Linked DNA regions of Homo sapiens. The protein of the gene in region 2 interacts with the protein of the main gene of each other region in a biochemical or structural test. Each region holds a gene or a part of one and is shown on either strand. Other genes may lie near its edges. The genes, in order: RELA, EP300 and H3-4.

The links.
Region 1: the proteins of EP300 (region 2) and RELA form a complex in vitro, tested with the Homo sapiens proteins (6 studies listed by BioGRID, with this or other methods).
Region 3: of the proteins of EP300 (region 2) and H3-4, one has a biochemical effect on the other in vitro, tested with the Homo sapiens proteins (5 studies listed by BioGRID).

Annotation. Positions count from the first base shown.
Region 1 is NC_000011.10:65,656,104-65,659,927, forward strand, and holds part of RELA (transcription factor p65), read right to left. Parts: intron 3,695-3,824; coding exon 3,563-3,694; intron 2,720-3,562; coding exon 2,615-2,719; intron 2,397-2,614; coding exon 2,184-2,396; intron 1-2,183. UniProt on the Homo sapiens protein: NF-kappa-B is a pleiotropic transcription factor present in almost all cell types and is the endpoint of a series of signal transduction events that are initiated by a vast array of stimuli related to many biological processes such as inflammation, immunity, differentiation, cell growth, tumorigenesis and apoptosis.
Region 2 is NC_000022.11:41,090,328-41,093,927, reverse strand, and holds the start of EP300 (histone acetyltransferase p300), read right to left. Parts: upstream 1,337-3,600; 5' UTR 924-1,336; coding exon 830-923; intron 1-829. UniProt on the Homo sapiens protein: Functions as a histone acetyltransferase and regulates transcription via chromatin remodeling. Acetylates all four core histones in nucleosomes. Histone acetylation gives an epigenetic tag for transcriptional activation.
Region 3 is NC_000001.11:228,424,269-228,427,022, forward strand, and holds H3-4 (histone H3.1t), read right to left. Parts: upstream 1,093-2,754; 5' UTR 1,058-1,092; coding exon 647-1,057; 3' UTR 577-646; downstream 1-576. UniProt on the Homo sapiens protein: Core component of nucleosome. Nucleosomes wrap and compact DNA into chromatin, limiting DNA accessibility to the cellular machineries which require DNA as a template.

The DNA.
Region 1 (3,824 bases), on a different chromosome or scaffold from region 2:
CCACAGCTTTTGGAGGCCTCTGTTGGCTGAATCTGCCCCTCTAAGACCACATGGTGAGGCCGAGTACAGGGGCCATGCTCTGGGCAAAGAGGAGACCTGGGGGGCCCCAGCCTCCAGCTCACACCTTCCTGCACTGCTCACATCCTGGCTCATTGTCAGCCTCCACCCAGGCCTGGCGAGAATTTCTTGGCACTCTGGGGCAGCTGAGGCACAACTGCCTTAAGACTTCAGCAGAGACTCTTATTCTTATCTCTAATGGTTTCATATTTTAGTCAGAGCTTTCAGAACTGTCTTTCTAATTACAGTGGTATTTCAGTAGCTCCAAAGCACTTCAATTCCATCAATTCAAAGACAACCTCATCATCCCTCAAAAACTAGGTTCTTTCTCCTGCATTCCCTGACCATCCGCCATCTGCCCTGTCACCAAAGCTAGAAACCTTGGAATGATTATCTTCTTTTCTCTCACTCCCCGCCAGTAACTTGACATATATTTATCAAGCACCTACTATGTGCCAGCCTCCCTTCTAGACACTGGGGATGTGGCCGTGAGTATGCACACAAGGTGTCTGCTCCCAAAAAGTTGGCATCCTAGTGAAAAAGTGAGAGGGACACAATCATATATACAAACCAGAAAATCTCGGCCAGGCGTGGTGGCTCACGCCTGTAATCCCAGCACTTTGGGAGGTCGAGGCGGGTGGATCACGAGGTCAAGAGATCGAGACCACCCTGGCCAACATGGTGAAAACCCCGTCTCTACTAAAAATACAAAAAATTAGCCGGATGTGGTGGCGGGCGCCTGTAGTCCCAGCTACTCGGGAGGCTGAGGCAGGGAGAATCACTTGAACCCGGGAGGTGGAGGTTGCAGTGAGCCGAGATTGCACCACTGCACTCCAGCCTGGGCGACAAGAGTGAGACTCTGTCTCAAACAAACAAACAAAACCAAACCAGAAAATCTCAAGTGACGGTGGTCCAGGGACGATATGGTGATGTAACAATACTGGAAGTGAGGTCAGGACAGTCTAAATGTAGAGGGAAGGGCTAATTTAGAGGTCAGGGAAGGACTGGCATGAGCCACTTGCATTAAAACCTTGGGCATTCCAAGCAGAGGCAACAGCTAGACACAGGTCCTGAGGTGAGACTGAGCTTGGTCTGTAAGACGCAAAACGGCTGCAGGGCTGAAGGGTAACTGAGGACAGTGGTGGAGATGTGATCTTGCTCTGCTATTCCTTCTGTAAGGTTTGTGCCGCATCTTCTCTTCCTGGACTACAGCAACATTTCCAGAATGGCCTCCCTGCTTTGAGTCTGTCTGTCTCTGATCTTCTACACGTGGCCTCCTGAGTCAACTTCCAAATCTGCTCCTGTCACCTCTCTGCTTAGAGGCCTTCAGCTTAACCAGGCCCTCCAATCTCTGAGCCTGCTCACTGCCCAACATCAGCTCAAACCACGAAGGTGGCCCTGAATAGGCCGTGCAGTTGCCAACACCCCTTCCCTTCCAGGTGCTGGGCCACCTGCCTGGAGAACACACTTCTGTGTCTTTCTCCAGCTTCAATGCCACCTTCTCCATGCAGCTGTCTCCAGCTCCCCGGAGGCCACTGTGCCCCCGTGCTTCTCTGCGCACACCTCCATTTCACATGTCATTCCGTGACTTAAGGATCTGTTTTGCACATTTGTCTTCCTCAAGTGACTGAGACTCTGAAGGGCAGGGAGCATGTCTTACTCATTTTTTGTATTCACAATACCTGGCACAGGCCCTGGTACCAAGTGGACACTCAAACCTCGACCAAAATGTGGCTGGGCTGTATGGTAGTGACAAGACAACCAGTGTGGCAAAAGGATCCTGAAGCCAGATGGCCTGGGTTCCAACGCTGACTCTGCTAGACTCTGCTACTTACTAGCCACGTGAACCCAGGCAAGTTGGACACTATCTCCTACTTCAAAAGGGTCATGAGATTAAAATCAGGTAATCCAGTGAAGTGCCTGGAATAGGGGCAGATGTGTAGTACTAGCTCAATGTCTGAGGTATCATTATTATTAAATGAGGCAAGAAATGGATTCCAGTTTCTTGGATCCCAAGCTCTGACTCCAGCTTCTGGCCCTCAACCACAGCCCCAGACATGCAGTCTTGGCCTCTCTCTCACGGCACAGAGCCCAGCTGCCCTGATGCTGCCACCCCAGCTGTGTACCTGTATCTGGCAGGTACTGGAATTCCATGGGCTCACTGAGCTCCCGGTCGGAAGGCCGCCGCAGCTGCATGGAGACACGCACAGGAGCCTGCAGGCTGGGGTCTGCGTAGGGAGGGGTCCGGAACACAATGGCCACTTGTCGGTGCACATCAGCTTGCGAAAAGGAGCCTCGGGCCTCCCAGCCTGGTCCCGTGAAATACACCTCAATGTCCTCTGCAGGAGATGCGGTGGCAGTGTGGGTCAGTGTGTCTAACCCTCCATGGTCTCCCCCTCAACTTCTGATGCTTGTCTTCTGATACATCACCCTTCGGCCCACCTGAGGCCCCCGAGGCACAGGAGGAAGTATCCAAAGCCAGTTACCTGACACTCCACTTCTCTGCTCAGCTTCACCCCTTGCTCCCAAGAGCCCACCCCTGCCTCCTGATGTATACCTTTCTGCACCTTGTCACACAGTAGGAAGATCTCATCCCCACCGAGGCAGCTGCCAGAGTTTCGGTTCACTCGGCAGATCTTGAGCTCGGCAGTGTTGGGGGCACCTGAGGCAGTGAAAACAAGGGAGGATGACCTGAGCCACGAGAGGTCCCCAGGGTGGCCTGCAGGAGATGCAACTTCCCTGCCCAGCCCAGAGTCAAGGTTGCCCAGAGCTTGCCACCTACACCTTTGTAGCCAAAGTCAGACCTTCTTATTAGCTCCTCACCCCAACCGATTCAACAAGTATTTGCCTACTGTGCACTCAACACTGATCTAAGCAAGAATACGACCACACACAAAACCCAAACCTCTCTGCTCTCCCGGAGCTTATAGTCCAGTGGGTGCCAATCTGATCACACTCTTTCTCCACCTGACCAAAGCAATCTTTAAGGCCAGTCCATACCCACCTTGGCAATGAGCCCTTCCCTCCTGACCCCCAGTTTATCCTGGTTTCCCATCCTTGGGGCTCCAGATTCGTTTTATTTCCATTCATCCTGCTGGTTACTTAACTAAAGACTGCAGCTGATCAGTCAGCCCAATTCATCTGTGGGCTTCCATCACTGAATCATCATTCTCGAACACTATCTTGTTCCTGGGAGTTCATTTCCTAGAGTCATTATCGCAGTTGTGGGCACACCACCTTCTCATCACACAATACTGAAAATGCCCATCTCCCATCAGACTCTCTGCTAGACTTCCTGCCAGGCCAGAGCTACACCTCAAGGACAGCTCTGGGTCTTCTTTGCCCTCTCTCCCCAGCCAACAAAGAGCTGGGCAGAGAAGAGTAGACAAATACGCAAGATGATTGAATGAAGCCAGAGCGCCTCTTGCAGGCCACACTCACCCCAACCCCCTTCCTCCTATTCAGGCCCACCCTCTCCCCTTCCTGCGTCTCCCTCGCTACTCACGATTGTCAAAGATGGGATGAGAAAGGACAGGCGGCAGGCGGAGGGGCCTGCCTGATGGGTCCCGCACTGTCACCTGGAAGCAGAGCCGCACAGCATTCAGGTCGTAGTCCCCACGCTGCTCTTCTATAGGAACTGCCAAGAAAACAGGCGATCAGGAGAGCAGGGGAAGTGGGGATATAGGTGCTATCAGTGGGGGCAGGGAGCTCTGCGCTGGGAGGGCCGCTGGTGCGTGTGTGAAACACAAGTCCTAGAGGAGGCAGAA
Region 2 (3,600 bases):
CAATCAGTTCACGTTTGTAGTTCATGATTGGAACTCTTTCAACTTCTAACCTTGATTTCCAGGTACGTAACTCCACAAAATTGTTTATCTTATTTCCCCTAAAATGAGAAAGTGACTGCAAACTGCAAAGAACATGCCCCTGTTCTCCCAACCTAAAAACCCAGAGTTTCAGACATTTTGGTCTCACACCAAAGAACTGGGAGATGTGAAATGAACTGCGCTCCATATTGATTCTTAAAGCAAATAAGAAGAAAAAGGAAAAAAAAGCTAAGAATGGTAGGTAAGATAAAAGAATTGTTAAACTTCACCTCTAACCTGAAATCTTGGACCTCGCACACACAAAATCAAGATTTTTTTACACCCTATTCCTCAACAGAAAATATTCTGCAAAGGAGAGAAAATTTCGAAGAGTGGAAAGTAGAGGAAACACAGTAAGTACAGTAAAGAGAAAGGATTCGAAATTCATTTGCCAAGAACAAAAAAAATGAAACTTAAATTGCATAGGAGCTCTTACACACAAATGCATTGGCATTTCCCAAATTAAATTGCATGAGAGCAACAATACAGGCCATTTCTATATAGCACCCACTTACGAGCTCTAATTCCAGAACACACACCGATATGACATAGTGTTGCAATCAATGTATTAGGAGGCAAAGAAAATGGTTGGGCTACTGGACGTCTTCGACCAGCTCATTCAAATACCTTTAAAATTAATTAAGGGGCAGGGAACTAGAGAGAGAGGAAGAAAAAAAAAATGGAAGAATAAAGGCGCACCGAGTAGAAAAGATTAAAGGGAACGTGGAAGGCCGGGGCTGCCGAAACTAACCTGTGCCATCGCTGGCGGACGCCGAGAGGGCCGGAGATGAGAGTTTAGGCCGCTTGGCTGAAGGCGGCCCCGGTTCCACCACATTCTCGGCCATTTTTAATTCTTTCGGAGATACAAGCGAGGAAAACCAGAATCCTCAGGAAATCTCTTCTTCGGCCCGGGGTCCCCGCGCCGCACCCAGGGGTGGGCTGGGGGGCTCCGACGGCACCCGAGGGGGTGGGGGAAGTTCCTTTTTCTCTTCGCCGGGTCGCAGTGGCTGGAGAGGGATGCGGACTCGATAGAAAAGGTAAGGGCAAGTGCGAGGGGCCGGGCCTGGGCCCAAGCCCGGAGGAGGGCACAAGAGCACAAATTCGCCGAGCGCGTCCGCTGCGGCGAATTCCCGAGAACTCGCGGCTCTAGAGGCGCAGTCCCCGGCCCGCCACGGCCGGCCCCTGCCCAGCCGAGGTCTCTCGGAGCTCCGCCGCCGCCATCAACCTCTTCCTCCTCGGCGCTGTCCTCCTCCTTCTCATCGCCACAAGGAGGCGGGGGCGAAAAGGGGGGAGAGGAGGAGGCGACAAGAGACACTCACCTCCTCCCGGTGCCCCCTCCCGGGCCTGCGCCCCCACCCTCCGAACCCTCCTCCTGCCGCCGCGCTCCGCGCCGCCGCCGCCGCACCGGCCCCTAATGGCCGCAGAGAACTCGCCCGAGCCGAGAGCCAGGCTGGCGCCGCCGCCTCACATCGCGCGGCGGCCGGCGGAGGCGCGGCAAGGACGCCGGGAGCGGAGCTGGCCGGACCAGAGGGCCGAGGGGGCCGGGCCGAGCAGCGCCGCCCGCACGCCCGCGCCGACGCGGAGCCCACCGAGGAGGCCCCGCTCCGGCGGCGGCGCAGGCGGCCCCTCCTCGCGCCGCGCTCCCCTCCTTCGCCTTCCTTTCCCGCGGAAAATAAATAAATACGGCCGCTGCTACGGCCCCCACCGCCGGCGGCCAGGTGCTGGGAGCGCCCGCCCCCCGGGGCTCCGTTCGGGGCCGCCCGCGGCGGCGGGAGAAGACGCCGCGGGGCGCGGGGTTATGTAATGGTCCCCCCTAGGCGTCGACGCCGGCCCGGCTGCTGGACCGCGGTGGGGGTGTGTGCGGACGGGAGGGGGCTGGGGGTCGCCTCAGCCCGTGCGCCCCGGGCCCCCTGCCACTGTCTCGGCCCCTGCCGCCTCTCTCCGACCCGACTCCCCTCCGCACTCTCTGGCTCCCGCAGTTAGCACTCAGCCCGGCGTCCTGCTTGCCCACTCTCGCCCGCTCTCTCTCGCCCTCTCTCCCCCCCAGCCTAGCACACAAACAAGATGGCGGCTGTTGTTTCTTCCCTCTGCCGAATCCTCCTTACAGGCTAGCGGTAGCGGCGGCGGCCGGAAATGAGCCAAGGGGGGGTGGAAAAGGGGAGTGGCCGGGCCTCCGGAGGGGGGCGGGGCCTAGGCCCGAGCCGCTCACACAATGGGGGAAGTGGAGCCGGGGGCGGGGCCTGTCCCAATCACGGGATCCGCCCTAGGCCCCAACGCGGTTAGCGCTTCCGCAAACTCCCCCGGCGTCACCCTGTGGCTCCCTTTAAAGGGGAGGATTTTAAGAGTGGGGAGGATTTTAAGGGGGGAGGGGCGGGGGCGGACTCAGAATCTATTTTCAGTCGGTGGATAGTTACGAGGGAAGGTTCCTGCCTTTGGTCTCTGCGTAAGGGACCAGTGGGAACCGGGACGACGGAACCCCGGAGCTGCTCCGAGGAAGGCGCCAAGTCGCCACTCAGGTGGCCAAATGGGAGCGCCCGTAGGGCGGCCCTGCTCTTCGGCCCTTGGGTGGCGGGTCCCCCAAAACCCCGGTCGAATTCACCAGGCAGGGTGTACCCACTGCCGGCTGTTCCGGGCCAGATACCCAGTGCGTCCTCACTTCTCCATTGCCCTCCCAAAGGGAGCAGTTCACATCCAAAAAGCACGTTGATTACGAGTTGTTTTCATTTTCTCTGAATTTTCCTTTTCCTTTTTATGTATTATTTATTTATTTATTTTACAACGAGCATTATTACTCTGACCAGAAAACAAAATCACAGCAGTGGAAAGATGTTTCGGCACCAGACCCAAATTCATTTCTTGCCCTCCACGTGTGTCCATACGCCCTTACCAGGTAGCACTCTCACCGCAGAAGCCTTCAAGTATTTTCCTAAACATGGCTGGGACCTGAAGACATTTCTAGGGTTTGTCTTTTTTTTTTTTCTCGTCCGCTCCCAATAGAACAAGTTAGTAAAAGACCACGTCTAGCCATTGCCTTATCTAATGTAATTATGGGAAAAACAAAAATGTGGTAAAGGTAATGTAAGGATGGAAAAAAGCAAAAATGTAATGGTGAGAGGAAATGCTGGAATATAAAGTCTAGTGTGTGGGACTCCACAGTTTTGCAGCTGAGGTCGGAGACGTGCTTTCAGGTTCCTACACATCACCCTGTGTTTGGCCATGGGTAAATTGGTACTGGAGGAGGTGGCAGGGGTGTAAGTGACCCCGAAAGAAACCCCGAAACCAGTATCTACTGATACGGTTAAAAGCTTTTTCTCGGCCAGGCACGGTGGCTCACGCCTGTAATCCCAGCACTTTGTGAGGCCGAGGCCAGTGGATCACCTGAGGTCAGGAGTTCGAGACAAGCCTGGCCAACATGGTGAAACCCCGTTTCTACTAAAAATACAAAACTTGTCCGGGTGTGGTGGTGCACGCCTGTAATCCTAGCTACTTGGGAGGCTGAGGTAGGAGAATCTCTTAAACCCG
Region 3 (2,754 bases), on a different chromosome or scaffold from region 2:
GGCGTAAGCTGCTATGCTGGTGAAGTAGCTGGACTTCTAACTTAAAATAGGCCAAGATAATACATACTACTTGCTGGCCTTAACAGGAGATGGGCTGTCAAGGCAGAAGACTAGCTGGACTGGTAACCTCACTGGAAACAAGCTGCGTGTACACACACACACACACACGCAGGACTTCTAACCTAATTTGAAAGAGGCTGAGCTGAGAACACACAAGACCAGCCAGCCTTCCAACCTAACTGTAGATAGGCTGAGTTGACACAACTAGCTGGGGTTGCTTACCTAACTGGAGATAGACCAATTAGGCTACCCTCAACACCCCGTCCCCAAAACAGACCAACCATGATTCTTATCTAAACGGATAGGCCAAGTTAGCCCCACACACTACTAGCTGGATTTGTGACTGGAGACAGGCTGAGAGGTAACGCGTGTGAGTAGCTGGCCTCCTAACTGGACAGGGTGAACACAGGATTCACCAGCCTCCCACCCTAATCAGAAGTAGGTAAGCCAGCACAGGCCAGCGGAAGGAACCCCCCGAAACCCAAGAGACTAGCTTGCTACAGCAACTCTTCGACCAGGTGGGTGGCTCTTAAAAGAGCCTTTGGGGTGAACGTTGCGCAACCTCTCAGGTGGCGAGATAGCCCTCCTAGGCCCGCTCCCCGCGGATACGGCGTGCCAGCTGGATGTCCTTAGGCATGATGGTGACCCGTTTGGCATGGATGACACACAGGTTGGTGTCCTCAAACAGCCCCACCAGGTAAGACTCGCACGCCTCCTGCAGCGCCATCACGGCCGAGCTCTGGAAGCGCAGGTCGGTCTTAAAGTCCTGAGCGATCTCGCGCATCAGCCGCTGGAAGGGCAACTTGCGGATTAGCAGCTCAGTGGACTTCTGGTAGCGGCGGATCTCGCGAAGCGCCACCGTGCCGGGCCGGTAGCGGTGCGGCTTCTTCACGCCGCCAGTGGCAGGTGCGCTCTTGCGAGCCACCTTGGTGGCCAGCTGCTTGCGCGGCGCCTTGCCACCCGTTGACTTGCGCGCAGTCTGCTTGGTTCGGGCCATGAATCCGAAACTGTTGGCCCCGCGGTGTCCTCTGCCCAGACCTCAGCGGATTGCTCGCTTTTATAGAGCTTGCCGCGTTCCCATTGGCTGGCCTCAGGTGGCGTGATGGCCCACTGCTCTCTGATTGGCCCACAGGGAACTCCACTCGGGCGCCTCTCCCTTATATTCATGCCTGTTGGTCGTGGCCACCAGAGCTGGCACCAGCATTGTGAAGGGTTGATGCGGGTAGGCCGCGGTGGTGGGGATCATCTCTCTCCAGCACAAGCTTCCTCATGTCTTCTCAGCGCTCCTCTTCTCCCTTCCCCATGACTTGGGTGGCAAGAGCCTTCCAGAAGCCAGCACATGGCATTCCACTTTTTTAAAAAATTAATTTATTTTTTTATTTTTTGAGATGGAGTTTCACTCTTGTTGCCCAGGCTGGAGTGCAATAGCGTGATCTCTGCTTACTGCAACCTCCACCTCCCAGGTTCAAGCGATTCTCCTGCCTCAGCCTCCCGAGTAACTGGAATTACAGGGATTACAGGTGTCCGCCACCATGCCTGGCTAATTTTTTGTGTTTTTAATAGAGATGGGGTTTCACCATATTGGCCAGGCTGGTCTCGAACTCCTGACCTCAGGTGATCCACCCGCCTCGGCCTCCCAAAGTGCTGGGATTACAGGCATGAGCCACCAGGCCCAGCTGGCATTTCACTTTTTTTTTTTTTTTTTTGAGACGGAGTCTCTCTCTGTCGCCCAGGCTGGAGTGCAGTGGCGCAATCCCAGCTCACTGCAAGCTCCGCCTCCCGGGTTCACGCCATTCTCCTGCCTCAGCCTACAGAGTAGCTGGGACTACAGGTGCCCGCCATCATGCCTGGCTAATTTTGTTTTGTATTTTTAGTAGAGACGGGGTTTCACCATGTTAGCCAGGATGGTCTCGATCTCCTGACCTCGTGATCCGCCCGCCTCGGCCTCCCAAAGTGTTGGGATTACAGGCGTGAGCCAGCGTGCCCGGCCGGCATTCCACTTTTACACAGTGACAAAGCTCTGGGATGCAGCCAGAGTTAAAGGAATCTCCCACTTTTTATGACCTGCAAAGAACTCCCTTACCTGTACGGCTTAGATGAGCCTTAGGATTCTGAAGAAGGTAAAGATGTGCCTTTCTGGCATATTGTCTATTTTGAGATAAAGGCACTTAAAAAAAAAAAAGAAGAAGCAGGTGTAGGAAGATCATTCTGAATTTCTTGTTGTTTCTTAAATACAAGAGATGAAATTCCCATATGAAAGATGTTCTCCTTATAGTAAAAGCAAGGGAACGTTCTTATCATCAAGGACGGGAGGTGGAAGCTTCCAAATCTCCTCCAACTCTCAAGTTGAAATTTGATCCCTAAAGTTGGAGCCCAGGGAGGGGGGGGCCAGTGGGAGGTGTGTGGGTCCTGGGGTGTCACCCTCTGAATAGAGTCCTGCCCTCCTTTAGGGTGAGTTTTCACTCTGTTGGTTCCCTGAAGAGCTGGTGTTGAAAAGAGCCTGGCACCCCTCTCCCCTCTCTCTCTGGCGTCCTCTCTCGCGGCAGCCCTGTGACCTCTGCACATACATGGGTTCCCCTTCACCTTCCACCATGAGCAGAAGCAGCCAGAGGCCCTCACCAGAAGCAGAGGTGGGCCCTATGCTTGCTTCCTTCCTTTCTCCCTCCCTCCCTTCCTTTCTCCTTCCCTCCCTTC